Linked DNA regions of Homo sapiens. The protein of the gene in region 2 interacts with the protein of the main gene of each other region in a biochemical or structural test. Each region holds a gene or a part of one and is shown on either strand. Other genes may lie near its edges.

Region 1 (3,500 bases), on a different chromosome or scaffold from region 2:
TTTCCCTGGGCAACTCTGAAAGGGAAAAGCCAGTCTCTTTCCCAAGCACACTGGCTCAGTCCAGCCTCCAAACCTTTGCTTTATGTCCTCATCCTGGAAGGACTGTCACCCACCTCGAGTCCTTCTCAGGAAACCATGTCTCACCACTTAGGCTCAGGCCAACCTCCCCCAGCTCTGCCTGGCACAGCCTTGCTGTCAGGGATCAGAAATGTCAGGGACAGGGGTGCTCAGAGTCACCACCCACCTGACCGTTGCTCATCTGGTTCCGAGATGGTTCTGGAATCTACTGAACTTTCCCGCCGAAGCCGGGGACTCTCCCTGGTGGGGAACAGATTGGGAGTGAGGCAGGGATGGATTTCAAGGGGCCATTTTAAAAAGAATTTTAGGCCGGGCACGGTGGTTCATGCCTGTAATCCTAGCATTTTGGGAGGTCGAGGTGGGCAGATCACCTGAGGTCAGGATTTCAAGACCAGCCTGGCCAACGAGGTTAAACCCCGTCTCTCCAAAAATACAAAAATTAGCCGGGCATGATGGTGGGCGCCTGTAATCCCAGCTACTCAGGAGGCTAAGGCAGGAGAATTGCTTGAACCCGGGAGGCAGAGGTTGCAGTGAGCCAAGATCATGCCACTGCACTCCAGCCTGGGCGACAGAGTGAGACCTTGTCTCCAAAAAAATAAATAAATAAATAAACAAAATAAAAATAATTTTAATTTATCTGGGCTGGGCGTGGTGGCTCACGCCTGTAATACCAGCACTTTGGGAGGCTGAGGCAGGCCAAATGCTTGAGCCCAGGAGTTCAAGACCAGCCTGGGCAACATAGCTGGGCAATACAGACCCCATCTCTACCAAAAATATGAAAATTAGCCAGTCTCACATGACTCAGTCTCAAAACAAATAAATAAATAGAGGAAAAAGAAATTTTTTTTTTTAAGACAGAGTTTTGCTCTGGTTGCCTAGGCTGCAGTGTAATGACACGATCTCGGCTCACTGCAACCTCCATTTCCTGGGTTCAAGTGATTCTCCTGCCTCAGCCTCCCAAGTAGCTGAGCTTACAGGCACCCGGCACCACGCCGGGCTAATTTTGGTATCTTAGTAGAGACAGGGTTTCACCACGTTGGCCAGGCTGTTCTCGAACTCCTAACCTCAGATGATCCACCCTCCTCGGCCTCCCAAAGTGCTGAGATTACAGGCGTGAGCCACCGCACCTGGCCTAAGGCAGAGTTTGATACTAAGAAGTGGGGTGCTGCTGTAACCAACACCTACAAATGCGGACACGGCTTTGGAACTGGGTAATGGGTAGAGGCTGGAGGTATTTTGAGGCACATGCTAGAAATACAGGACTGCGTCCTCAAGGTTACCCCCAGTTGGAAAGCTACGCCCGCGTTCCCCTCTCCCTCCCACCTCCCTCTCCCTCCCTATCACCATTCTGGCCGATGGGTGATACTTACACGGGAGAGTCGGTCTGGCTGGCCTCGGGGCTCCGCTGAGCATGCCGGGGTGGTGGTGGGATGTGGGATGGTGGTGCCTGCGATAGCTCCGAGGCGAGGTCCGAGATGTCTGCAGGGGGAGAGGACATCTCATCAGCCATGGTCACGCCTTCTGGACTGGACCCATTTTACAGAGGGGTATATCAACACCCCTCTAAACAAAGGGCCCTAGACCAAAGTCAGAAGCTCAGTTAGAAGATTCGGCTCTGGAGCTGGGCACGGTGGCTCACGCCTATAATCCCAGCTACTCAGGAGGCCAAGGCACGAGAATCGCTCGAACCCAGGAGGCAGAGAATCGCTTGAACCCAGTGAGCCGAGATCGCCCCCCTGAACTCTTGACTTGCTGTGTGGCCTTCAGCAAGTTCCTGTCACTCTCTGAGCCTCTAGGGACCAGGCTCATTGATTCCTTGGCCCTGCCTGGGGCTTCCCACCTTCCCTGCCATCCATTCAACCCCCTCCCAGGTCCTAACCTCTAGGTCCTCACCCTCCAATGGCGAGCTGTCGCTGTCACTGACAGCAGGCGGAATGTTCACCAGGAACTGCCCACGATCTCTCAGCACCAGCAGGCTTAGCTTCCCTTCTGACTTCTCAATCAGTCGCCGGGTGTCGTTCAGTGACAGGTTCTGGCTAGACACCCCGTTGATCTGAAAGGGACCAGGAATGAAAGAGCGGAAGTGAGTTAATGAGAGATGGGAGACAGTAGAAACAGCCTGGTGTGGGGGAACTTGAAACAGACAATTCCCCCAGAGGTTGCTAAAAACAGCCACTCCCTAAGGAAAGTGTTGAATTGGATTCCTGCTGTGAGTGGAGACCACACCAAGAACTGAGCACCGAATTCTAGAAACAGAAAATGTTCTAAGAGGGGTGGGAGACACTGGGGAAAATGAGAAACAGGTTGACTCTCCTTTCTTACCAAAAGTGGAAATGTCTCAGGGGATACTAGGAACAGATGTGAGGGTGACATTATAAACAACTCTAACTGGAGAAGAGGGAGTATCAGATACTTAAAAGATACTAGAAACACACAATCTTCTGGGAGATAACTAGAAACAGATATCTAGAGTGGGGCGCGGTGGCTCACGCCTGTAATGCCAGCACTTTGGGAGGCAGAGGCAGACAGATCAGTTGAGGTCAGGAGTTCAAGACCAGCCTGGCCATCATGGTGAAACCCTGTCTCTACTAAAAATACAAAAATTAGCAGGGCGTGGTGGTGGGCGCCTGTGGTCCCAGCTACTCAGGAGACTGAGACAGGAGAATCACTTGAACCCGGGAGGTGGAGGTTGCAGTGAGCCAAGATCCCGCCACTGCACTCCAGCCTGGGTGACAGAGCGACACTCCATATCAAAAAGAAAGAAAAGAAAAGAAAAAAGAGAAGAGAAAAGAAAAGAGAAAAGAAAACAGTCATCTAGAGGTAGATTAGAAACACACAATTCCTAGAAAGAACTTAATGTCGGCCGGGTGTGGTGGCTCATGCCTGTAATCCCAGCACTTTGGGAGGCCGAGGCGGATGGATCACCTGAGGTCGGGAGTTCGAGACCAGCCTGACCAAGATGGAGAAACCCCGTCTCTACTAAAAATACAAAAAATTAGCAAGGTGTGGTGGTGCACGCCTGTAATCCCAGCACGTTGGGAGGCCGAGCGGGGGGGATCACCTGAGGTCAGGAGTTCGAGACCAGCCTGGCCAACATGGAGAAACCCGTCTTTTCTAAAAATACAAACATTAGCTGGGTGTGGTGGCGGGCACCTGTAATCCCAGCTACTCGGGAGGCTAAGGCAGGAGAATCACCTGAACCTGGGAGGCGGAGGTTGCAGTGAGCCGAGATTGCGCCACTGCACTCCAGCCTGGGTGACAGAGCGAGACTCTGTCTGAAAAAAAAAAAAAGAAACAGATAACTTTTTGAAGACACTGGAAATAATCAGCTGAAAGCAATTTGGAAATCAAACACTAGGAGTCACTAGAAACAGACTTTCAGGGGAAGAATCCAGAAAGATACCATCCTTTAGGGCAGGGCA
Region 2 (2,686 bases):
ATCCCACCGGGCAGAGAACCAGGGATCCCCTGGAACCCTGGGCTTGTGTTTGGCCTTGGGCAGGGCCCCCCACCTTCTCTGGAGCTCAGTGACCTCACCCGTTGAAGGCCTGGGCCGCCACACCCTGTCCCCTCTGCCTCTATCCTGCACACCTGTGGATGGTGGTCCAGTTTGGACTGGCTGGTTTCTTCTCTTCCCTTGCCCCAAAACCCACTCCAGCCCCCTGCAGGGAGGAAGTGGATGAGGAGCTCTGGGGTGGGGGTGAGGCCTTGTTCAGGGCTGGCCCACCTGGCTCCACTCTGGGACTCTTAGCAAGTCCTTCCTATCTCTGGATGTCCTTGGTCTCCGATATAAAATGAGGGTCCTGAACTCGGTGACCCTATGCTCCTCCTGTCCTGACAGTCCGCGGTGCCCCTGGAGCCATTTCAGGCAGTGGGACAGAACAGGGGGAATACATTTAGCAAAGAAAGGCCTCCCTGAAAACTCTATTTACAGAGCAGAAGGTGTGCCTGGCCCCAGAACCCCAAGCCTTTCTCCTGGAGCCCTGGCTGCTGGGATGCTGCGGGAGGGGGCAAAGAGGGTCTGGGCCTCCCAGCTCTGAAGGGCCAGCATTACGTTAGAGGCCGTGCCTGCATGACCTGTCGGGTCTCCAGCATGATATCTCATTGGCCCAATTTTCTCATTTTCTTTTTTTTTCGAGACGAAGTCTCACTTTGTTGCCCAGGCTGGAGTGCAGTGGCACGATCTCGGCTCACTGCAACCTCTGCCTCCCAGGTTCAAGCGATCCTCCTGCCTCAGCCCCCCAGTAGCTGGGATTACAGGCACACGCCACCATGCCCGGCCTAATTTTTGTATTTTCAGTAGAGACGGGGTTTCTTCATGTTGGTCAGGCTGGTCTCAAACTCCCAACCTCAGGTGATCCACCCGCCTCGGCCTCCCAAAGTGCTGGGATTACAGGCGTGAGCCACCGCACCCAGTCAGCCCCATTTTCAAGATGAGGAAACTGAGGTTCAGAGTAGTCAACAGCTCGCCCAAGTCACACAGTGGATCTAGGACTTCAACCCAGGACTGTAGGAGCCAGGGAGCTCTTTGAGAACCAGGGGAATAGGGAGAAGAACTCGGAGTCAGGGTGGGTGACCGCGGGGGAGGAGGTGGGGGCAGGGCTCACTCTCCCTGGGCCCGGAGAGGGAGTTTCTCTTGGGAAGAGGCAGGCTCTGAGGCTGTTGATCTCTAAATTATAGCGTTGGCGCGTACCGGTTGCTGCGGCAACCGAGTTGTCCTGAACCGGGGAAGTGTATAAACATTGCCACAGATGCACAATTAGATCAGGAAGAAGAATAGAACAGAAAATAGAAACTTCCAGCCTTATGTAATTCTGGGCCAAAATGTTATTGGGAACCCAGGCCCAGTCCTGGCCCTGCCAGCTGCTGGGGCCTGGGGCAGCAGCATGTCTTCCCTGGGGACGCAATGGCAGAGAGGGGTGGAGAGAAGGTCTGTCCTCTACGGGCCCGAGGCGCATCCCGCCACCCAGTGGGGTGAGGGGCCTCTTCTGCTGCAACAGCTGGGGATGCTTGACAGGCAAATCCTGCCTGTCACCAGCTCCTGGGAAGTGTGGGAAGGAAGGCAGGAGGGTGATGGCTTTACCCCAGCACCTGCTGTCCCCGTAGGTCCCATGAGGTAGGGAGTTTTGGTGCCCATGTTACATGAAGACATGGAGGCTCTGAGAGGTGAACTGAATTGCCCGAGGTGTGTCCTCCCCTCCCACTCCCTGTCTCCCCGCCATCAACTCATTCATGTTGGTGCCACGCAAGTTTGTATCCACTGCCAGCTTTGTGGCTGGCAGGTGGCTTTCCATCTCTGAGCCACCTGGGACATGGGAATAGCGATGTCTACAGAGGAGTCAGAGCTGGGGGCTCCCCCTTCCTCCACCCTGACTGTCACATTGGATTCTCCCCTCACCACTGCTCCTAACAAGTGTGGGCACTGGGCAGGAATTTGGGCTCAAGGACTCAAAGCAACACTGGGAGAGAAGAGTCTAAGAAAGGAGCTCAGACCCAGGTGGGGCTGCGGGTCCCAGTAGAACTTTTTCTTTCTTTTTTTTTTTTTTTTTTTTTTTGACATGGGGTCTTGCTCTGTGACCCAGGTTGGAGTTCAGTGGCATGATCACAGCTCACTGCAGCCTTGACCCCCTGGGCTCAATAGATCCTCCTGCCTTAGCCTCCTGAGTAGCTGGTACCAGAGGCATGCACCACCATGCCTGGCTAATTTTCTTATTTTTTGTAGAGATGGGGTCTCACTCTGTTGCCCAGGCTGGTCTCAAACTCCTGGCACAAACAATCTTTGCATCTCGGCCTCCTAAAATGCTGAGATCACAGGCATGAGCCCCTGTGCCCAGCCAGAAATTTCTCAGTGATAGAACTCTCCTGTGTCTTCTCTGTCCAGTGTGGTGGCCGTTGACCACATGTGGCTCCTGATCACTTGAAATGTGGCTCATGCAAGGAAGGAGCTGCAGTTAATATTTTATTTCGTTTTAATTAAATGTAAAGAGCCACACGTGGCCAGTGGCTAGTGCACAGGAGGATGTCCAGCCCCCGAGAAGCCCAAAAGTGCAGAGATGGAATCCAGGGAGGGAAGCGGGCTTAGCGCCTCCGTGGCTCCCTATGCTCAGGGCAAGCAGGACAGAGGG

The links. The genes of interacting proteins can lie anywhere in the genome.
Region 1: the proteins of KCNJ4 (region 2) and TJP3 interact in a test that uses a peptide from one of them, tested with the Homo sapiens proteins (one large-scale study listed by IntAct).

Annotation. Positions count from the first base shown.
Region 1 is NC_000019.10:3,732,384-3,735,883, reverse strand, and holds part of TJP3 (tight junction protein ZO-3), read right to left. Parts: intron 2,132-3,500; coding exon 1,972-2,131; intron 1,558-1,971; coding exon 1,449-1,557; intron 319-1,448; coding exon 245-318; intron 16-244; coding exon 1-15. UniProt on the Homo sapiens protein: TJP1, TJP2, and TJP3 are closely related scaffolding proteins that link tight junction (TJ) transmembrane proteins such as claudins, junctional adhesion molecules, and occludin to the actin cytoskeleton.
Region 2 is NC_000022.11:38,428,514-38,431,199, reverse strand, and holds part of KCNJ4 (inward rectifier potassium channel 4), read left to right. Parts: intron 1-2,686. UniProt on the Homo sapiens protein: Inward rectifier potassium channels are characterized by a greater tendency to allow potassium to flow into the cell rather than out of it.